6 linked regions of the Homo sapiens genome follow. The protein of the gene in region 1 purifies or fractionates together with the protein of each later gene. This does not show direct contact. Each region holds a gene or a part of one and is shown in the gene's direction. Other genes may lie near its edges. The genes, in order: SPANXB1, BPGM, CSAG1, HMGCS1, PCDHB11 and ZNG1A.

Region 1 (3,039 bases):
CCCTATTTCGTGATATCAAGCATTTTAAACTTTTTATCTTTGACGAACTTTCCAAAGTCAAATTCTAACTTCATTCCTCATTAATTTTTTGATATGAGTCCTCTGAAGTCCAAAAGAGACATATTGGTCTTATTTGGTATAAAAATCATACAAGAAGCATCATCAAATATAAAATGGTGTTTGACTTTCTTTGGGCTGTATTTATAGAAATGTCATTGATATGTGCTCCAAAATTATGGGAAACTCTTATACTTCTGAAATAACTTGTGTATGTTATTAATTATAACTTTTATGTTAAATTCTTGTATGCTACAGAAGTAACCAAAATTTACTTGTCAATGGTGGTTTTAATAATGGCCGTCCTGGCTGGGTGTGGTGGCTCACGCCTGTAATCCCAGCACTTTGGAGGCCAAGGCAGGTGGATCACGAGGTCAGGAGTTCAAGACCAGCTTGGCCAAGATGGTGAGACCCCGTCTCTCCTAAAAATACAAAAATTAGCCGGGCGTGGTGGCACAGGCCTGTAATCCCAGCTACTCAGGAGGCTGAGCCAGAGAATCACTTAAACCCAGGAGGCAGAGGTTGCAGTGAGCTGAGATCATGCCACTGCACTCCAGCCTGGGCAACAACAGTGAAACTCCATTTGAAAAAAAGAAAAAAATATACACCCCTGATTTGAAACAAGACTAGGATACACGGTAAAGAATGTTTATTCACTAAAGTTTTGACAGACTGAAGGCCATTATTTCAGATTGGAGATAGGAAACTTAAAAGAACTACATGGACATTGGGTAAAAGAACATGGGTTGAAATTTGCCTGGCAGTAGCCCAAAAGTAAATGGTCTTCGAGGTGCATGTGAAGGAACTGTAGGAGGGAAATGGGATAATTCACATCTCCGCCAATAAATAAATGTAGCCACACTAGCGTGGGGGATTTGAGGTGAGACATCGAAAATACTAAGTCATGGTGAGGGCTGGAAGACAAAAGAATGAATCACTTAATAGGAATGGCTGTGGGGAAGGGCTTGAAGGAATCATCCTCTGACTTCCATGTGAACCGTGAACATTAAACATGGAGAAATGAGGAGCGGCGGCAGATCGGTTTGGGATGCATCTTCAGGGGATGCTGAAACAACAACAGCATTTGGTTTGCTCTACACCCCTGTCACCCCTCGCCCGCAAGCCCAGGGAGTGGTCAGCAGTGGGGCTTTGTGACGTCGAAGCCACCCTAGGGCTGCCATTGGCTGGGACACTGCCTGTATGATCAAACAAAGCTCAAGGGTGTGGCTTTGCCTTGTCACCAGGAGGGTATGCATAGGGAGGGCAAGAGCTCTGGGCCACTGCGAAGATTCAAAAGCTCCAAAAACCTACTGTAGACATCGAAGAACCAATATATACAATGGGCCAACAATCCAGTGTCCGCAGGCTGAAGAGGAGCGTCCCCTGTGAATCCAACGAGGCCAACGAGGCCAATGAGGCCAACAAGACGGTAAGATTGTTAGGTTCTGAAGTGAAGGCGAGGGTGAAAGAAAGACACACAGAGCGGGGGCGGCTCAAACAACAACACAGGAATATTGCAGACCATTGTGGAAGTGGGGGGCCCGCTTAATGCCAGAGCCCACCGCCGCTTACAACCTGGGGTGCTTGTAGGTAGGGGTGGGAGGGGCCTGGGCAGTATGGCTTGCTGCCCGGCAGGATATTGATAAGATGTTCTTATGATCAGGTGGTTTGGCCCTTTTTCTGGTGGAATATCATTGTGGTGTTCCTTAGAACGCTGCCAAGCAAGATATGATAGGGATGTTTCTTCAGTTGGGCCTTTGTCCGCCTTGCGGACAGGTGGTTAGGCAGGATGTTTCTCACGGCCTGAACCCCCATGGGATGTTTCACTTTGACCAAGGTCTGCAAAATAGCAAAGAACTGACAAAATGGTGCAGTTTGGACTCACAGGTGACCCTACCCACGCTCCTCTTCTTCTTCCCCATAGATCCCTACTCTGTGCTTCAACCTTCTTCTTCTCTGGATCAAACCCCTTCCTCAACCTGCATTCCTTCTTCTCATGAAGCCCCCTTGCTATCCAGTCTCTATCCTGTTCACCCAAAATAATGTCCTCCTGGCCTCTCCCTGTTTTCTTAACAGATGCCGGAGACCCCAACTGGGGACTCAGACCCGCAACCTGCTCCTAAAAAAATGAAAACATCTGAGTCCTCGACCATACTAGTGGTTCGCTACAGGAGGAACGTGAAAAGAACATCTCCAGAGGAACTGCTGAATGACCACGCCCGAGAGAACAGAATCAACCCCGACCAAATGGAGGAGGAGGAATTCATAGAAATAACGACTGAAAGACCTAAAAAGTAGCAAGAAGCTACATCCCTCAAACTTCGGCAATGAAAATAAAGTTTGAGAAGCTGATGGCTGTGTATATCTCTGCCTGTTTTCTGATGGTGGGGGGTGAAGGGAAGGGAAGAGGTAGGCATTTGAGAAGGGAGGGATATGAGGTCCTGTAGGGTTGGTGGACAGACCCACAGGTTGACAGTAAGCCAGACATTGTAAATAAGGCCTGGGGGAGGACTGATTCCTAAAGAAAATTTTCTTCTTAAAATTTTATCTCACAGGAAGTGGAGATGTGTATATGTTCACGCAACTGTACCCGGCAGCACATAGTTCTGCTGAATGGACATATCAAAGGTATTCCCATCCCCTTTCCATTTGATATTTTCCTAGGTTAGAAATATATGCTTTATAAAGCGTAAATGTTCTGTAAAACACAAAGCACAATACAAAAGAAGATAGTAGATGTAGGAGTAAGTAAACGGCAGGAAAGCATTGCATGTAATGAAATGATTGAAAAGCCAAATTTTAAAACAAAATGTACACTGCATCTTAAATATTTATGTTACTGTTTTAATAACCTCAGCAGTGTTTAATCAAGATAAGCATGCTTTAGAAATGTGTTGATATCCGCAAGTGTGAATAGTCAAAATCGCCACGACTTGGGAAAAGGAAAGTAAAACACTCTTAAGTATGAGGAGCTTTTTTCCA
Region 2 (3,699 bases), on another chromosome or scaffold:
ACTGCGCCCAGCCCTGTTTACTATTTTTTAACATCTTTATTGCGTTATAATTCACATACTATGCAATTCGCCATTTAAAGTATACAATTAAATGGCTTTTAGTGTATTCACAAAATTGTAAATCCATTACCACAATCAATGTTGGAACATTTTCACTACCCTAAAAAGAAACCCAGTGCCCCTTAGCTGTTATCACCCCCCCAGTTCCTCCCCTATTCCACCCAGCCCTGGGCAACAACTAATCTACTTTGTGTCACTATAGATTCACCTGTTGTGGACATTTCATGTAAATGGACTTATGCAGTAAGTGGTCCTTTGTGACTGGCTTCTTTTATTTAGTAGCATCATGCTTTCAAGATTCATCCAAGAACCTTGTTGTGGTTTGGTTCAGTACTTCATTCCTTTTCATTGCCAAATAATATTCTATTGTATGGATATACCACATTTAATTTATCTGTTCATTAGTTAATGGACATTTGTGTTGTGTTCACTTTTTGACTATTATGAGTAATGCTGCTATGAAGGTTTGTGTACAAGTTTTGTATAGACTCATATTTCACTTCTCTTGGGTATATGCTTAGTAGTGGAATTGCTGGGTCATATGGTAGATCTGTGTTTAACAAAAGGAATTGCCAGACTGTTTTCGAAAGAGGCTATAGCCTTTTGCATACCTGATTTTACAGTGTATTATGATTCCAGTTTCTCCACATCCTTATTCACACTTGTTTATAATCTGACTTTTTATTGTTGCCATCCTAGAGGGTACAAAGTAGTATCTCATTGTGGTTTTGATTTGCATTTCCTTGATAGCTAGTAATATTAAGCCTATTTTTATGTACTTATTGACCTTTTGTATATCTTTGGAGAAATGGCTGTTTAAACCTTTTGCCCATTTTTAAATTTGATCATTTGTCTTTTTATTATTGGAGACAGTTCTTATATCTGATAAGGAACTTGTATCTAGACTATATATGATATACAAATTTTTCTCCCATTCTCTGGGTTGCCTTTTTATGTTCTTAATAGTGTCCTTTGAAGCACAAACATTTTTAATTTTTATATACCCAGTTTATTTTTTTCTTGTGTATGCTTTTGGTGTCATATCTGAGAAACCATTAATTAACTCAAGGTGATGAAGACTTTACTCCTATGGCTTTTTTTCTAAAAATTTTTACAATTTTAGCTCTTGACTCTAAGTCTTTGATTCATTTTGAGTTAATTTTTATATAAAGTATGAGTCAGGGGTCCAACTTCATTCTTTCACATATGGATATACAGTTATCCCAGTACTATTTGTTGAAAAGATTATTGTTTCTGCATTTCATTGTCTTGGCACACTTGTTGGAAATCAATTGATAAAAAATATGAGGGTTTATTTTGGGTTCCCAATTCTATTTCATTGATCTGTGTGTATCTTGATTACTATAGCTTTGTAGTAAGTTTTGAAATCAGGAACTATGAGTCCCTTGGTTTATTTCTTCTTTTTCAAGATTGTTTTGGCTATTCTGAGTACCTTAGATTTCCATATGAACTTTAAGATCAGTTTGTCAATTTATACAAAAAAGTCCATTGAGATTTTTGATAGGATTGTATTGAATCTGTATGTTAATTTAGGAAATATTGCCCTCTTAACAGTGTTATGTCTTCTAATCCATAAATACATATTTAGGTTTTCTTTCATTTGAACACTGTGTTGTAGTAGTCAGAGTATAGTTTTGTACTTCTTAGGTTAAATTTATTTTTAGCATTTTATTCTTTTTGATGTTATTATAAATAGAATTGTTTGCTTAATCTTTCATGTTGCTTATTGCTACTGTATTAAAAACCCAATTTCCTTTTCTGTATTGTTCTTATATCTGCAGCCTTGCTGAGTTTATTAGTTCTAACAGGTTTTTGGTGGGATCATACCATCTGCAAATAGAGATAGTTTTACTTCTTCCTTTCCAATCTGGGTGCCTTTTATTTCATTGTCTTGCCTAGTTGCCCTAGCTAGGATCTTAAATACAATGTTGAATAGAAGTAGAATGTTCAGTCATTCTACAATAAAGTCCTAGGTTCAAGAACTTAAGATTAATAGTTGGTGACACTGCAAAGGCACACATCTATGAGTGGTGAATCCAAGATGCTGATAGATATATACACTCATAGTTTCTACTTCTGGTAAGCTTTAGTCAAACATGGTCACTTTTGTTATCTTTTAACAAATTAATTTTTTATAGTGAAAATTTAGATTATTTGGAGAAATCTATAAAATCCATTTTTCTCTCCAATTTAGTGAGCAATATGCTTACAGACTCTGGAAACAGATAAAGCATGGTCCTTGCACAGTAGATGAATGTAAACAGTACTCAGTGTACTCATGCTCTTGTGTCTCTAAGGTGCCTCTGCTTTTCTTAACCATTAAGAATAAAATACAGGAATGTTGGTGCTAGAGGGACTTATTTTATAAATGAAAAAATAGTTCATTGGAGGTAAAATCTTGGCCAAGGTCACTCACACATGTTCTTCCACAGAGTACTAGGAATATAAAGGGCCCTCAGTTACTAGTTAGTGAATGAGTTAGGTTTGGAGACCTCCAGAGCTTCCCCTGGATTTGGGAGTGAGCACTGTTGGATTTGAAAGGCTCAGTGGTCACCTGACTCCAAACAACAGGCTGTTGACTTCCCCTCCTGCTCTTTCCAAGGGATGTTTGTGGTGGCTGTTGTGCGGCTAGCTGACATTTCTGGCCTGTTGAAGCCAGAAGGTGTTTAGAATCTAGAGTAGTCATCTCCCTGCTAAACAGCTAGAGGTCTGGTCTGAGTAGATTTGTTCTCAGCAGCTGTAGTTTGTGATGGTAATCTTCTCTAAGGTTGCAGTGTGAGGGTGGGGCTTGGCAGGGCAAAGGAGTATCTTAGTAGCCTTCCCATTAAATCTGCTACCTAGAAGGGAATTCCTAATAGAGAAAGAAGAGACACTTATTGTGCTACCCTTTGTTCATGTATGTTCTCTTTTAAGCCACCCCTTTTATCCCACAACCCTTTAAAATGCTGGCAAAGGAAGAGTGTGTGTTTCTTTTCTTTCTTTCTTTCTTTTTTAATTGACAGGAGAATTGGAGGTCCAGAGAAGTTACTTGCCTAAAATTCTGTATTACATTGAAGGGGTACTGGCAGGGCAGGTGATGGGACAGTACACTTACTTGGAAGAGACTGTGTCTTCTGAGTTAAGATCCTTTCCATTTTTCATAGTTGTTTGAGTATGGATAGTTTGTGTATAAGAGTTATTAGGGAGCTCTTCTAGGCCTTGACGTGAAATTCTAATAAAGAGCCACCCCAGCAGTAAGCATCCAGTGCTACGATTCTGTGACTGTTTGGCTGGTGCTCACAGTTAGGATCAATGGCTAATTAAAATGAAAAGGTGCATTGATTACTAACCAATAACAACTTATTCTGCCACTCTCAAGTAAAGACAAACCCTTGGACTCCCCTGAACTTGTTTCACCTAGGTCCTTTCTGTTAATATAGAACAGGAAGCATATAGTTAGAATTTAGAAGTCTATGTGATTAATAAAGGAGTGTTTTTAAAGTAGATAATTTGAATACTTTCAGTTGTCTTTTAGCTTGCTGAACTTCATCTCTTTCTCATGCCTTCCCTTTGCTCACTTTGAACTCAGAAACTTGAGAGGAGTTACATTATACAGTGGGTACAGACCCCTAGGTTTGA
Region 3 (3,937 bases), about 12 Mb from region 1:
ATAACTTTCCCCCCACTTGCTTCACTGTGGTGGTTTCATACATCTATAATACAGCTAGGTTTCTGTGTGTGTAACATTTTACATTCTGTTCTGTGATTCTCCAACCTCTTAAGTTACTTTTAGACGTTACATACATTAAGCTTCACTCTTTGTGCTGTAAAGATCTATGGGTTTTGACAAATGCCTCTTGCCATTGTCTTAGTCCGTTTGGGCTTCCATAACAAAAATAGTGTAGACTAGGTGGCTTATAAACAACACAACTTTATTTCTCACATTCTGGAGGTTGGAAAGTCCAAGATCAAGGTGCTGGCAGATTTCATGTCTGGTGGAGTCCTGCTCCCTAGTTCCTAGACACCTGCCTTTTCCCTATGTCCTCGCATGGAGGAAGGGGCAAGGGATCTCTGTGGGGACTATTTTATAAAAACACTGATCCCATTCATGAGGTCTCTGCTCTCATGAACTAGTCATTCTCCAAATACCCCACCTTCTACCTAATACCATCACCTTGGTATTTCAGCAGATGAAGTTTGTGGGAACACAAATATTCAGATGAAAGCAAGCACGGAACCACCATTACAGTATTACCATACTAGTTTCACTGCCCTGATAAATCCCCTGTGCTTGTCAGATAACCCCCTTGGCTGCCACTGATAGGTTTTTCATCTTTATAATTTTGCCTTTTCCTGAATGTCATATAAATAGACTCGTATACTATGTAGCCTTTTTAGACTCGTTTCTTTCTAGACTCGTTTCTTTAGACTCGTTTAGCATAATGAACTGAAGAGTCATGTAAAACTTTGTGCAGCTTGTAACTTATTCCTTTTCATTGAGGAGTAGTAGTATCATTGGGTGTACCATATTTTAATGCGTGTGTGTGTGTATGTGTGTATATATATATATATATAATCCATTCACCAAATGAAATACATTTTGGATGCTGCTATTTTTGGTGATTGTGAAATAAGCTATTGTATACATTCATATACAAATTTTTATGTAGACATAAGTTTTCAAATCAATTGGGTAAATTGATTGAGTATGGCTGCTGAATCTTACGCTAAGTCTATGTTCCGTTTTTTAAGAAAACGCCAAATTGTCTTCCAAAGTGGCTGTGCCATGTTGCATTTCCACGAGCTATGAATGAGAGTTTCTGTTGCTCCACATCTTCCCTGGCAATTGGTCTTGGTTTTGTTTGCTTTGTTTTGCTTTTTTATGGATTTTGGACATACTAATAGGTGTGTAGTGGTATCTCATTTTAGTACACAATTATCTAATGACAAAACACGCTTAGTACATTTATTATGCTTATTTGCCATGTGTGTATCTTCTTTTGTGTAGTGTGTGTTCAGATCTTTGACTATTTTCATTTTTTTCTATCGCTGAGCTTTAAGAATTCGCATATATTGTAGAGACAAGTTCTTTATCACATATGTGTACCGCAGATGTTTTCTGCTAGTCTGTGGCTTCTGTTTTCATTCTCTTAACATTGTCTTTTGAAGAGCACATGATGTTTATTTTAATAAAATCAACTTGGCAAATTTTTCTTTCCTTGATCATGCTTTTGGTGTTGAATTTAAAAACTCATCTCCAAACTCAAAGTTATGTGGATTTCTCTCATGTTTTCTTATAGAGGTTGTATTGTTTTTGCATTTTTCATTAGACCTATGATGTATCTTGAGTTAGTTTTCATGGAATATGTAAGGATATGTCCAGGTTATTATAATTTGTGTATAGGTGTCTAATTGTTCCGACACCTTTTGTTGGAAAACCTGTACTTTCACCATTATTGCCTTTGTTGTGAATCACCTGACTATATGTGTGCAGGTCTATTTCTGAGCTCTATTCTGTTTTATTAACCTATGTGTCTATTCTTTGCTAATGCTTATGTCCTCCACCAAATTCATATTTTGAAGCCCTCAGCCCCAGGGTGTCTGTATTTGGTGATGAGGCTTCTAAGGAAGTGATTAATGTTAAAAGAGGTCATAAGGGTGGGGCCTTGATCCCATAGAATTAGTGTGGTTATAAGAAGGGAGAAGAGACAGAAGATAGCATTTTTGTGCCTGCATGAGCTCGCTGTCTCTCTCGCGCGCTCTCTGCACATGCACAGAGGAAGGGCCAAGAATGGACATATTGAGAAAGGGCCATCTACAAGCCAGGAATAAGGCCATCACCAGAAGCCAACCCCGCCAGTCCTTGATCTGGGACTTCCAGACTTCAAAACTGTGAAAAAAGATAAATTTCTGTTGTTCCAGCTACTCAGTCAATGACATTTTGTTATTCTAGCCTGAGCTGACTAGTACATAACCTCAGGTAACACAATTTTTTTTTGTTTCCTCCTAGAAAAAAAGCCCGTAATTTTGGCATTTAAGATTGCGGTTCATTTTGAGTCACATTTTTGTACGGTGCAAGATATTTGCAGTGGCTAGTATTATGTGTCAACTTGTCTAGGCTATACTGCTCAGCTGTGTGGTCAAACAGTAGTCTAGATGTTGCTGTGAAGGTATTTTGTAGATGTGATCAACATTTACAATCAGTTGACTTTAAGTAAAGCAATTTAACTTCCATAATGTGGATAGGCCTCATCCAATTAGTTGAAGGTGTTAAAAGACCAAGGTTTCTTGGAAAAGGAATTCTACCACAAGACTAACATAATAATGTCGTGTGAGTTTCTAGCCTGCTGGCCTGCCTTCACTGTCCTGGGGGAAGCTCGGGGAGACCAGGTGGACTGGAGTAGACTGTACAGAGACACTGGTCTGGTGAAGATGTCCAGGAAACCACGAGCCTCCAGCCCATTTTCCAACAACCACCCATCAACACCAAAGAGGCGAGGAAGGGGAAAGCATCCTCTCATCCCTGGCCCAGAAGCCCTATCAAAGTGAATGGCCCACCCAAGCTCTGACTCCTACCCTGTCCTCCCCTGGCACAACCCCCACCCCAGCCTGTACCATTTCTCTATGAAACCCCTGTTCTCACCCCTCCTCCATCCTCTTCCCCAAACCAGTGCCCTCCTGTGATCTCCCTGTTGGCTTTCCAGGTTCCCAAGACAACCCAGAAGGGAAAAGGGACCCGTCAAGGAAGTTCCAGGAACAAAAGGCTCTCCCTAAAAGACCACCGCTTCAAAAAAACCTGAGGAATGGAGTGGGCCAACACTATCCAGCCACTCTGACCAGCCGAACGAGGAACTCAATCAAAATGCGCCATAGCAGGACCACAAGGGCAAGGAGACCACCGCCTTCTCCAGTGCTTCCTTGGGCAGCCAGTAATTCCCAGGCAAGGCCAGAGACTTCAAGTCTATCTGAAAAGTCTCCAGAAGTCTAACCCCAGATAAATAGCCAACAGGGTGTAGAGTACGTTTTACACCCCAAAGGGTATGCCCCATGGTGATGGAAATAAAATGAACATGTTGTAAAATGATGTGTGTGTCTGTGTGTCTCAAAGGTTGGGGGTAGGGCTTAAGGGGAAGAGGTGGGAGTGTGGGAAGGGATGGGGGGATCCTCTACAATTTCTTTAAATTCAAATTGCTCTTTGTTCTTTGGATTCCTAGGGTGAAAGTTTTGGTTATTGATTTTAGATTTCATTTTCTAATATAAACATAAAATATGCTATACATTTCCCTCAAGGAAACACTTTAGCTGAATCCCATTTTTGTATGTATATTTTTATTTTCATTCAACTTAATGTATTTTTAAAATTCTCCTGAGACTCCCTCTTTGACCCATAGGTTATTTAGGAGCATATTTTAAAATTTCCAATATTTGGGCATTTTTCAGATATCTTGGTGTTTGGTTTTGAATTTAATTATATTATGGTCTAAGAAGAGGCTTTTTATTATTTCTATTTTTTTTTTCAATTTGTAAGCTTTGTTTGATGGCCCAGAATACCATCTATCCTGGGAAATATTTCATGCACACTTGAGAGGAATGTTTATTCTGCTGTT
Region 4 (3,699 bases), on another chromosome or scaffold:
ATAACTAGTTTTCCATAGAGAGTAGGCTATGTAGACTTGGGTATGAATGACCTACCTCTGTAGAAGTGCAGGTCCCTGATTAGAAAACTTATTTTCTGTGTGATTTATCGAGGAAAGCTTCCAGGAAGAGGTGACTTAGAACAGGGCCTTGAAGATGAGTAGAATCTCTGATACGCAGACCAGTAACTCTGGGAGGAGGCAGGGATGTCCATGCTTTTTACTTGGAGAACTATACCAGAGTGTACAGGTTTGAGCAAGTCTTTCTTAACATTAGTTTTTACTTGCTTGCTCCTAAGGAGGAAAGGTTGCCAACTTGTTCTTAATTTCCTAGATTTATCTCCTGTAACAATGAGAAAGATCAATAGGTAACTGTTTATATTTTATAGTTTACATACCAAAATGTGTAGGCAATGAACTTCTCCAACCACTTCTTTGAATCAAGGCTAAGGAGGGAGCCAGAAGGAAGTATTCAGAACACTGAGTAAACTCCAGAAGAAACTACCATTGCATAAATCTGGTTGGCCCTAGGCAGTCTTATCATTCTTGTGTTTTAGTCTTTGCCAGACTCAAAGTGCCTATATTTCATCCCATGAGTCTGCAAACCTGCTTTGTGGTAACCTGCCTGGCTACTTGCCATTCATTAACTGCTTCTTGACCCATGTTGATTCCCTCTGTCACTTACTCTGAAAAGACCTGTTAGAAATAAGCTTGTGATCTGCTTGAGACTTTGGCAATACTGGTTTAGCCAGAATAGAGAAATCCTTAAGTAGCACAGCAATCCTTTCTGAATCTTCTATTTGTTTCTTCTTTGTTCTCTGTGTCTCTCCCACCTAACATCCCTCTCCAATTTAAGTAATCAAAATAGAAAGAGGGGCCCAGGCAAGGTGGCCCACGCCTATAATCCCAGCACTTTGGGAGGCCAAAGTGGGTGGATTGGTTTAGCCCAGGAGTTGGAGAACAGCCTGGGAAAGATGGCAAAACCCCATCTCTACAAAAAATACAAAAATCAGCTGTGTATTGTGGCATGTGCCTGTAGTCCCAGCTACTTGCGGGGTCTGAGACAGGAGGATCACTTGAGCCTGGGAGGTCGAGGTTACAGTGAGCAGTGACTGGAATGCTACTGCATTCCAGTCTGGGTGACAGAGGGAGACCCTGTCTCAAAAAAAAAAAAAAATTTGAGGGAATATAGGCAGTGCAAGGAAAGGCAGAATATAGGCAGTTCAAGGAAAATTTCCTTGATACAAGTAGTGTCAAATGCATATACATACATGAACATCAAGAAGAAATATTATTATTTAAGTAGTCTTAACATGGAGAAGGAATCTTGTTTTTCAAGAACTGGTCTCTGTGGTCTGCTTAATTTGCAGAAGACAAAGGCATAATTTGAGATAATAAAGAACAAAGATAGGTTATTTTCTCAAAGTATGTATAATTACAGTTAATTAGAGACATTTTTGGAATATTGTAGTATTCTTTGCCTACAAAACTCAAGATCTATTTCTTTTTATGGGGCAGGGGGGCGTAGGTGGGTAGTAAACTTAGTTAATGAAGTAAAAGGCGCTACGACTGAAGAGCTCTTAAATTATGTAATTATGTAAAAAAAGTAAAGCTTTATTAAATATTAATAACATCCGAATGTAGTTACCAGTGAATCCATTAAGGGCAGATGCTAAATTTGCCAGTAATTAAATAGAGAGCAGAGGAAATGGTGTATGCTGTGTTAAACATAGAAGTTGCCATCTCAAGTAACAATCAGTCTTTCAAAACAGATGGACTGAAGAATATGTTCCAGTCACCTTCGCAAATTATTTCTACTTAATTTACATAATAATGTTTAATGCTCCTTTGTCTAAATGCTTAATTTTTTAACATAAGCAGTAAGAGGGAAAATCACTTTATAAAAGGTTGGGAGGGTGAAGGTGGCAGTGTTGAAAATGATTAGGTCTTGCTAGAAAAAATACCTTTATTTTCTTTGAAAAACACTTATAAGAACTATAAGAACTAAGGTAATAGTCAGTGTATTGGTGCTTTGTGTTACAAAGTGTCTTCACATATTTTATCATCTCAGCAATCCTTCACAATGATCTGGGGAGGGCAACTGTATTAGCTTCATTTTATAGATGAGGAAACTGAGGTCCAGAATTGCTGCCAAAGCCACAATCTGTTACATGCAGTGCAGGCTCTTGACTGCATATATCTCTTTACTCTAGAAATTTGCTAACTCATTACAACTTGTTTATATTCCTTTCCCCCAATTCTTGAAAACCTTGGTTTAAAGCCTCAATTGGTGACATGGGCTTCTTATTTCCTTGAGGTTTTTTTGTTTATTCCTTCCTGCAATAGTAGGCTTCTTATATCCGTTTATTACCAGGACTGAACCTTTCACTATAAGGGCTATGAAAATAAGGGGGAAAATGTTCTATAAGCTTTAAGTATGATTTTTTCTAAGCAAATGTCAAATTCTATTCTGCATAATGTAATTGGATAAGGAATTGCTTATTTTAACTCACTTTGAATTGGATTCATTAGTATTTGAATTTGGGTAGTGATTTATAACTTTAAAAGCAGTTCTTGTTTGAAATTCCTAGTGCCCGAAGGAGGAAACAGTGACAGACCTGGAGACTGCAGTTCTCTATCCTTCACACAGGTATGACATCCTGTCATGCTGCTTAAGGAAAGTATTCCTCTCTAATGGAAGGAGGAAACTTGGTATCCTAGAGAAAATAACGATTTGTTTGTGCCATATGTTCTTAAAACCCCTTTTAGGGTTCTACCTCATCTTTAAAATTCTGTTAATGCTTTAATGCTTCAGGAAACTAATTTTATGTTTATTAGACTAATGTTTAAAATCTAGAAACAAATTTTAAAAATTAGTGTTCACTCATAAGAGAAAAAGTACTTATAATAAAATGTAATTACATGGACTACTTAATCAGAAACAATCAGAGGTAAACATGACTGCCATTAGTGCTTTTTAAATTATGGCCTCAAAAGATATGTATCTGGGCTGTGGATGAATGTTTAAAATTATGTAAGAATGGGCCAGGCACAGTGGCTCACGTCTGTAATCCCACCACTTTGGGAGGCTGTGGCGGGTGGATCACCTGAGGTCAGGAATTTGAGACCAGCCTGGCCAACATGGTAAAACCCAGTCTCTACTAAAAATACAAAAAAATTAGCCAGGCTTGGTGGCAGGTGCCTGTAAGTCAAGCAGCTCAGGAGGCTGAGGCAAGAGAATCGCTTGAACCCAGAAGTCGGAGGTTGCAGTGAGCTGAGATTGCGCCACTGCACTCCAGCCTGGGCAACAGAGTGGGACTCTGTCTCAAAAAAAAAAAAAAAAAAAAATTATGTGAGAATGGACAGTAATTTCAAATGTGTTTCAACTGGTAATCTAATTATTTGCAGCCATTGCTTTCTCATATTGTCAGGGAGTGCTTCTCTTACAATTCTGCTTTTTTTGTATTTCAAGATTATGATTTCCTATGGGTGTTAATGACTTTAGATTAGAAGTCTAGTACCATTTCATTTATTCAACATTAGCATCTACCATATGCCAAACAGTGGGTTGGGTACCGGGGACACAAAAATGAACAAAGCACGGTTCCTGCTCTCCAAAAGCTCCTTGTTTAATGCAGAGAGGCTAAGCCTAAATAATAGAGGAGAAACTTGGCAGTTTGAAATATAAATTGAATTTTCCTT
Region 5 (4,432 bases), on another chromosome or scaffold:
GGTACCTACTAGGATTGTGTAGGGAAAACCCAGTAGTTTATTTTTAGTATCTCCAATGAAGGAACTTTATTTTAGACATTTCTTGGAACTATTGTCAATTGCTCTTTCATCTGCTTTCTATCATCAAATAATTTGTGTATTTACTTATGTATTCTTAGTCTTTGTGAATTCATACCTTTTATTACTTTTCTGTCATTTTAGAGAGGGGTTAAGAAGAAGGAAGGATAATTGTATAGTCAATCCACATACTATTCAATTTCTACTCTTCTGCACTGATAATTTTTCAACCATGTATCTAGTTCACATTTTTGTGAATGTAATTTGAAATTAGAATTTTTAAAAGCAGACTTCTTAGATGTCCTCCATTATTGAGAGTACTTTGAGATGTCTAACAGTGGATACCATTGGTAGTTTCCAAGCACCTATTCCAACTATCTCCCTCATTATGCCATGCACTTTGGCTAGGACTGAAACCACCTCAAGTTTAAGGGGCAATCTCTGCCTGGATTAAAACAAAGGGTCAAAGATGGAGTCTTTAGATTCTGGGACTATAATCTCTACCTTTAATCCTATACATCTTGAGACACTGATTTCTTCAGTAACAGGCTGAAGTGCTCTCAGTTGGTCTAATCAGAATGAAGGCTAAGATTTTGTTCTATTATTGAGGAAGAAAATATCTCTCATTCTGTCTTCTTGAGCTGAAAAACAAAGCAGATAGCCATAGATGTTGCTGGAATAAATCTTGGGAAACTGAGGGAGGGCAGTCTTAGAAATAAGCCTGCTTTAAATGAAACTAACATGCTTGTGCTTGTGTATTTATTATTTTTTGAGAAGCTGGAACTAAATCAAGGATTCTCATAATGTGTTCTACTCCCAATATCTTACTTTACTTTCTAGCAGTTCACAATTCCTTGCTACCAAGGAAATCTATATAAATGCCTTCTTGTGCTATCATAACTATCAAAGTATGTCCCATCTCATGGTTAATCCAGTTTCATATCCTCTGAGAGGACTTCTAAAATGACCCATGTATAGTTTGCCTTTTCATTACCACCTAAGGAAAGTCAAGTAGTGATAGAATTTTGTACAGCTTAAAAATATTATGGTTGTTTTATGTTTCCAGTCTTCTCAGAAAGATTACAAACCACTGGGAGCCAGGAATCACATCTTGTATTTCTGTATTCACCACAACTAAGCACGTTTGGTTGTATGGAGAAGGGGGAAAGATAAATGCTTTAAGATGAATATTAACAGCATATCAAACTAAAGAGAATATGAAATAATTATTACAGAACGTGCAATATATTTGTAATCACTTGAACACAATGAATAAAACAATATTTGTTTCCGGAGGACATATAAGTGAATGGAATTTAGGTAGCTTTCACCAAACTGTGAAAATCTATGGAGACACTTGGTGGCGCTGCAGGATAACATCGTGAAAAATATATTCACTGGATGGCGTTGTGAACACTGATATCCAGTGCACACAGAGAATCAGAAGACAGAAACAACAAGCCTTCAAGAGGGTGACCTGGAAACCATTCAACAGGGTTAAAATCCTTAGACCACAGAGGATTTGGTGGACAAGTCAGAGACGCGTTCCGCAGAGCTGAAGCCTTTCTTCAAGAAGCCTACAAGAAAGGAACTATGGAGAACCAAGGGACACGCACTCAGCAGATAAGGCAAGTCCTGCTTCTCTTTGTTTTGCTCGGAATGTCTCAGGCGGGCTCTGAAACCTGGAGCTTTTCTGTGGCAGAAGAAATGCAGAGCGGGAGTTTTGTAGGCAATCTGGCAAAGGACCTGGGGCTGAAGGTGAGAGAACTGTCCTCACGGGGGGCTCGGGTGGTCTCTAATGATAAGAAACAGCGTTTGCAGCTGGACATAAACACTGGGGATTTGCTCTTAAGTGAAACACTAGACAGGGAGGAGCTCTGCGGTTCCATCGAGCCTTGCGTGCTACATTTGCAGGTGTTAATGCAAAACCCCACGCAGTTTTTACAAATTGAGCTTCAGGTCAGGGATATAAATGATCACTCTCCCATCTTCTCGGAAAAACAAATGCTCCTAGAAATCCCAGAGAACAGTCCCGTTGGTGCTGTGTTCTTACTAGAAAGTGCGAAGGATTTAGATGTAGGAATCAATGCTGTAAAAAGCTACACAATAAGCCCCAACTCTCATTTTCACATTAAAATGAGAGTCATTCCAGACAATAGGAAATACCCCGAGTTAGTTCTGGACAAGGCGCTGGATTATGAAGAGCTCCCGGAGCTCAGTTTCATCCTCTCTGCTCTGGATGGTGGGTCCCCTCCCAGGTCTGGAACTGCCTTGGTCAGGGTGGTGGTTGTGGACATTAATGACAACTCCCCTGAATTTGAGCAGGCTTTTTATGAGGTGAAGATTCGGGAGAATAGCATCCTTGGCTCGCTGATTTTGATTGTCTCAGCTTGGGATTTAGACTCTGGAACAAATGGTGAAATATGCTATACCTTTTCCCATGCCTCAGAAGATATTCGCAAGACATTTGAAATTAATCAAAAGTCTGGAGAAATTACTTTAAGAGCACCTCTGGATTTTGAAACGATTGAGTCATACTCAATAATCATTCAAGCCACAGATGGGGGAGGACTTTTTGGAAAATCTACAGTCATAATTCACGTGATAGATGTAAATGACAATGCTCCTGAAATCACTGTGTCATCAATTACCAGTCCAATCCCAGAAAATACGCCAGAGACCGTGGTTATGGTTTTTAGTATCCAAGATATAGACTCTGGGGACAACGGAAGAATTGTTTGTTCCATTCCGGAAGACCTCCCATTCGTGCTAAAATCTTCAGTTGAGAATTACTACACGTTGGAAACAGAGAGACCACTGGACAGAGAGAGCACAGCCGAGTACAATATCACCATCACCGTCACCGACTTGGGGATACCCAGGCTGAAAACCGAGCACAACACAACTGTGTTGGTCTCTGACGTCAATGACAACGCCCCCACCTTCACCCAAACCTCCTACACCCTGTTCGTCCGCGAGAACAACAGCCCCGCCCTGCACATCGGCAGTGTCAGCGCTACAGACAGAGACTCAGGCACCAACGCCCAGGTCAACTACTCGCTACTCCCGCCCCAGGACCTGCACCTGCCCCTCGCCTCCCTGGTCTCCATCAACACAGACAACGGCCACCTGTTCGCCCTCAGGTCGCTGGACTACGAGGCCCTGCAGGCTTTCGACTTCCGCGTGGGCGCCACAGACCGCGGCTCCCCGGCTTTGAGCAGCGAGGCGCTGGTGCGCGTGCTGGTGCTGGACGCCAACGACAACTCGCCCTTCGTGCTGTACCCGCTGCAGAACGGCTCCGCGCCCTGCACCGAGCTGGTGCCCCGGGCGGCCGAGCCGGGCTACCTGGTGACCAAGGTGGTGGCGGTGGACGGCGACTCGGGCCAGAACGCCTGGCTGTCGTACCAGCTGCTCAAGGCCACGGAGCCCGGGCTATTCGGCGTGTGGGCGCACAATGGCGAGGTGCGCACCGCCAGGCTGCTGAGCGAGCGCGACGCGGCCAAGCACAGGCTGGTGGTGCTGGTCAAGGACAATGGCGAGCCTCCGCGCTCGGCCACCGCCACGCTGCAAGTGCTCCTGGTGGACGGCTTCTCCCAGCCCTACCTGCCGCTCCCTGAGGCGGCACCGGCCCAGGCCCAGGCCGACTCGCTCACCGTCTACTTGGTGGTGGCGTTGGCCTCGGTGTCTTCGCTCTTCCTCTTCTCGGTGCTCCTGTTCGTGGCGGTGCGGCTGTGCAGGAGGAGCAGGGCGGCCTCGGTGGGAAGCTGCTCGGTGCCTAAGGGCCCCTTTCCAGGGCATCTGGTGGACGTGAGCGGCACCGGGACCCTTTCCCAGAGCTACCAGTACGAGGTGTGTCTGACGGGAGGTTCCGAGACAAATGAATTCAAGTTCCTAAAACCGGTTATCCCTAATATCCAGGCAAAAGGTCTTGGGAAGAATAGTGAAGAAAACTCCACCTTTCGAAATAGCTTTGGATTTAATTTTTAGTAAGAATGCTATTTACATTTGCATGTACTTTTTTAGTTTTATGTAACCATATCAATATTATTTAGTCTTAAACTAGTTACGTTATTATGCAATACGACTAATTGTATTTTTAATTTTTTCTTTTCTCCCCCAATTTTTTTTTTTTTTTTGAGACCGAGTCTCATTCTGTCGCCCTGGCTGGAGTGCAATGGTGTGATCTCAGCTCACTGCACCCTCCGCCTCTCGGGTTCAAGCAATTCTCCTGCATCAGCCTCCCGAGTAGCTGGCATTACAGGCGCCCACCACCACGCTCGGCTAAATTTTTTTTTTTTTTATCTTTAGTAGAGACGGGGTTTCACCACGTTGGCCGGGCAGGTTTTAAACTCTTGACCTCATGTTCCACCCGCCA
Region 6 (3,559 bases), on another chromosome or scaffold:
TAGACCATGTGATAGCCAACAAAATGAGCCTCAATAAATTTTAAGAAAATTAAAATTATATCAAGCACTCTGTCAGACCACAGTGGAATAAAACTGGAAATCAACTCCAAAAGGAACCTTCAAAACCATGCCGATACATGGAATAACCTGCTCCTGAATGATCAGTGGGTCAAAGATGAAATCAAGATGGAAATGTAACAATTCCTCAAACTGAACGACAAGAGTGACCCAACCTGTCAGCCTCTGGGACACAGCAGAGGCGGTGCTAAGAGGAAGGTTCACGGCCCTGAGCGCCTCCATCAAAAAGTCGGAAAGAGCACAGACAATCCACGGTCACACCTCAAGGAACTAGAGAAACAAGAACAAACCCAGCAGAAGAAAGGAGATCAGAGCGGAATTAAATGAAATTGAAACAAAACAACAAAAAAAATCCAAAAGATAAATGAAACAAAAAGCTGGTTCTTTGAAAAGATAAATAAAATTGATAGACCGTTAGCAAGATCAGCCAAGAAAAGAGAGAAAATCCAAATAAGCTCAATAAGAAATGAAACGGGAGATATTACAACTGACACCACAGAAATACAAAAGATATTCAAGGCTACCATGAACACCTTTACATGCATAAACTAGAAAACCTAAAATAGATGGAGAAATTCCTGGAAAGATACAACCCTCCTAGCTTAAATCAGGAAGAATTACCCTGAACAGACCAGTAACAAGCAGGGAGATTGAAATGGTAATTAAAAAATTACCAACAAAAAAATGTCCAGGACTAGACGGATTCACAACAGAATTCCACCAGATATTCAAAGAAGACTTGGTACCAGTCTTAAAGACACTATTCCACAAGAGAGAGAAAGAAGGAATCCTCCCTAAATCATTCTATGAAGCCAGTATCACCCTAATACCAAAACCAGGAAAGGACATAACCAAAGAAGAAAACTACAGACCAATATCCTTGAACATAGATGCTAAAATCCTTAAGAAAATTCTAGCTAACTGATTCCAACAACATATCAAAAAGATAATCCACCATGATCAAGGGGTTTCATACCAGGGATGCAGGGATGGTTTAACATACACATGCGCGTAGCCAAAGCAAGACTAAGCAAAAAGAACAAATCTGAAGGCATCACATTACCTGATTTCAAACTTATACTATAAGGCCATAGTCACCAAAACAGCATGGTACGGTTATAAAAATAGTCACATGGACCAATGGAACAGAATAGAGAACCCAGAAATAAATACTTACAGCCAACTGATCTTCAACAAAGCAAACAAAAACATAAAGTGGAAAAAGGATACCCTTTTCAACAAATGGTGCTGGGATAATTGGCTAGCCACATGTAGGAGAATGAAACTGGATCCTCCTCTCTCACTGTATACAAAAATCAACCCAAGATAAATTAAAGACTTAAATCTAAGACCTGAAACTATAAAAATTCTAAAAGATACCATTGGAAAAATCATTCTAGACATTGGCTTAGGCAAGGATTTCATGAACCCAAAAGCAAATGCAATAAAAACAAAGATAAATAGCTGGGACTTAATTAAACTAAAGAACTTTTGCACAGCAAAAGGAACAGTCAGCAGAGTAAACAGACAACCCACAGAGAAGGAGAAAATCTTTCATAATATATACATCTGAAAAAGAACAAATATCCAGAATCTACAATGAACTCCAACAAATCAGCAAGAAAAGCAGTCCCATCAAAAAGTGGGCTAAGGACATGAATAGACAATTCTTAAAAGAAGATATACAAATGGCCAATAAACATATGGAAAAATGCTCAACATCACTAATGATCAGGGAAATGCAAATCAAAACCACAGTGCGATACCACCTTACTTCTGCAAGAATGGCCATAATAAAAAAATCAAAAAAATAGTAGATGTTGGCATGGATGTGGTGAACACGGAACACTTCTACACTGCTGGTGGGAATGTAAACTAGTACAACCACTATGGAAAACTGTGGAGATTCCTTAAAGAACTAAAAGTAGAACTACCATTTGGTCCAGCAATCCCACTACTAGGTATCCACCCAGAGGAAAAGAAGTCATTATACGAAAAAGATACGTGCACACGCATGTTTATAGCAGCACAATTGGCAATTGCAAAAACGTGGAACCAACCCAAAGGCCCATCAATCAATGCGTGGATAAAGTAACTGTGATATATATGCATACAATGGAATACTCCTCAGCCATAAAAAGGAGTGAATTAATGGCATTCGCAGTGACCTGGATAAGATTGGAGACTATTATTCTAAGTGAAAGAACTCAGGAATGGAAAACCAAACATCGCTATGTTCTCACTCATAAGTGGGAGCTAAGCTATGAGGATGCAAAGGCATAAGAATGACACAATGAACTTTGGGGACTCAGGGAGAAAGGGTGGGAAGGGGATGAGGAATAAAAGACAAAAATTGGGTGCAGTGTATACTGCTCAGGTGATGGGTGTACCAAAATCTCACAAATCACCACTAAAGAAGTTAACCAACACCACCTGTTCCCCAGTAACCTATGGAAAGAAAGAAATGTCTCATATGTTTCTGCCTAAATTGGTCTTTAATACTTTAGCGATTCTCTTGAGTTTGGATTATAAAATAGTTTTGGTCTTTTTGTATTTTCTGCTGTAAGCCTGTATGATTATGTAATGGTGAGTAAAATTGCTAGGCCAGATATGCAGTTCTAGGAAGTTATGCAAAGATGTGCTTTAGTATATTATTTTCTACCTTTTTAAATTCATTTTGAGCTTGGCTTTTGAGCCTCTATTTTCCAAGGTGGGGTGTATGTTTTTATAATGTTATGCTTAGCCCTTGTGTATTTTCATCTCTGAGTTTGAAATTTGGGGTTATATTGGCAAAGGGAGGTTTGGGTTTTAATTAGGTGACCTGTTAGAGGAAATGTTAAGCTTCTGTTTCTTTAGGGTAGACAGTGAGAGATTTATCAAGATAAAGAAGAAAAATAAATCCTAAAGTTAATATTCAATACATGATGATGTCCCCCTTACTAAAGCCAAAGAGGGCATTATCCTATCATTCTCATCGCTAAGAACTCTTCTCCTCTTGGCACATGCTTATTCAGTTAAAGATAAGCCAAGCCTTTCTTTTGTATTTTTTTTTAAGAGAACAGATTTACTTTGGTTTTGAGTTTTATTCCTGGCTCTGGGTAGCTTATTTTTTTGACCCTTATTTTCCCCAATTTATAAAATGAAATAGTTATCTTCACTCCCCAGGATTGTTGTGAAGAGTAAGTCAAAAGATAAAATGAGGTGACTCAGGCAAAAGTACCTGGCCCTGTGTAGTGAGTACATTGTATGTGTTACATATATTCTTATTGCTGAGAATCCACGAAAGAATGAATTAAATAATGAGGACCCCTTCATCAGGGTTTTTGAGTGAGTTTTTTAAAATACAAGGTAGTAGTTTGTGTAAATACTAAATCCATTGGTACCTGTGCAGAATGTAGGAAATGGAGTTGCTAATTCCAAAAAAACAGCACATATGCTGAGGAAAGTATAATACCTAATATATATGGTTTAAGCAATGTAA

Evidence for each region.
Region 2: the proteins of SPANXB1 (region 1) and BPGM purify together in Homo sapiens (affinity purification with mass spectrometry; one large-scale study listed by BioGRID and IntAct). This does not show direct contact.
Region 3: the proteins of SPANXB1 (region 1) and CSAG1 purify together in Homo sapiens (tandem affinity purification; one large-scale study listed by IntAct). This does not show direct contact.
Region 4: the proteins of SPANXB1 (region 1) and HMGCS1 purify together in Homo sapiens (affinity purification with mass spectrometry; one large-scale study listed by BioGRID and IntAct). This does not show direct contact.
Region 5: the proteins of SPANXB1 (region 1) and PCDHB11 purify together in Homo sapiens (co-immunoprecipitation; one large-scale study listed by IntAct). This does not show direct contact.
Region 6: the proteins of SPANXB1 (region 1) and ZNG1A purify together in Homo sapiens (affinity purification with mass spectrometry; one large-scale study listed by BioGRID and IntAct). This does not show direct contact.

Annotation. Positions count from the first base shown.
Region 1 is NC_000023.11:141,001,298-141,004,336, forward strand, and holds SPANXB1 (sperm protein associated with the nucleus on the X chromosome B1), read left to right. Parts: upstream 1-1,296; 5' UTR 1,297-1,396; coding exon 1,397-1,486; intron 1,487-2,133; coding exon 2,134-2,355; 3' UTR 2,356-2,409; downstream 2,410-3,039.
Region 2 is NC_000007.14:134,674,200-134,677,898, forward strand, and holds part of BPGM (bisphosphoglycerate mutase), read left to right. Parts: intron 1-3,699. UniProt on the Homo sapiens protein: Plays a major role in regulating hemoglobin oxygen affinity by controlling the levels of its allosteric effector 2,3-bisphosphoglycerate (2,3-BPG). Also exhibits mutase (EC 5.4.2.11) activity.
Region 3 is NC_000023.11:152,726,961-152,730,897, reverse strand, and holds the end of CSAG1 (chondrosarcoma-associated gene 1 protein), read left to right. Parts: intron 1-2,673; coding exon 2,674-2,824; coding exon of another isoform or gene 2,825-2,875; intron 2,876-3,034; coding exon 3,035-3,104; 3' UTR 3,105-3,414; downstream 3,415-3,937. UniProt on the Homo sapiens protein: May play an important role in maintaining centrosome integrity during mitosis.
Region 4 is NC_000005.10:43,306,714-43,310,412, reverse strand, and holds part of HMGCS1 (hydroxymethylglutaryl-CoA synthase, cytoplasmic), read left to right. Parts: intron 1-2,568; exon of another isoform or gene 2,569-2,588; 5' UTR 2,589-2,647; intron 2,648-3,699. UniProt on the Homo sapiens protein: Catalyzes the condensation of acetyl-CoA with acetoacetyl-CoA to form HMG-CoA, which is converted by HMG-CoA reductase (HMGCR) into mevalonate, a precursor for cholesterol synthesis.
Region 5 is NC_000005.10:141,198,125-141,202,556, forward strand, and holds the start of PCDHB11 (protocadherin beta-11 precursor), read left to right. Parts: upstream 1-1,502; 5' UTR 1,503-1,650; coding exon 1,651-4,044; 3' UTR 4,045-4,432. UniProt on the Homo sapiens protein: Potential calcium-dependent cell-adhesion protein. May be involved in the establishment and maintenance of specific neuronal connections in the brain.
Region 6 is NC_000009.12:123,551-127,109, reverse strand, and holds part of ZNG1A (zinc-regulated GTPase metalloprotein activator 1A), read left to right. Parts: intron 1-3,559. UniProt on the Homo sapiens protein: Zinc chaperone that directly transfers zinc cofactor to target metalloproteins, thereby activating them.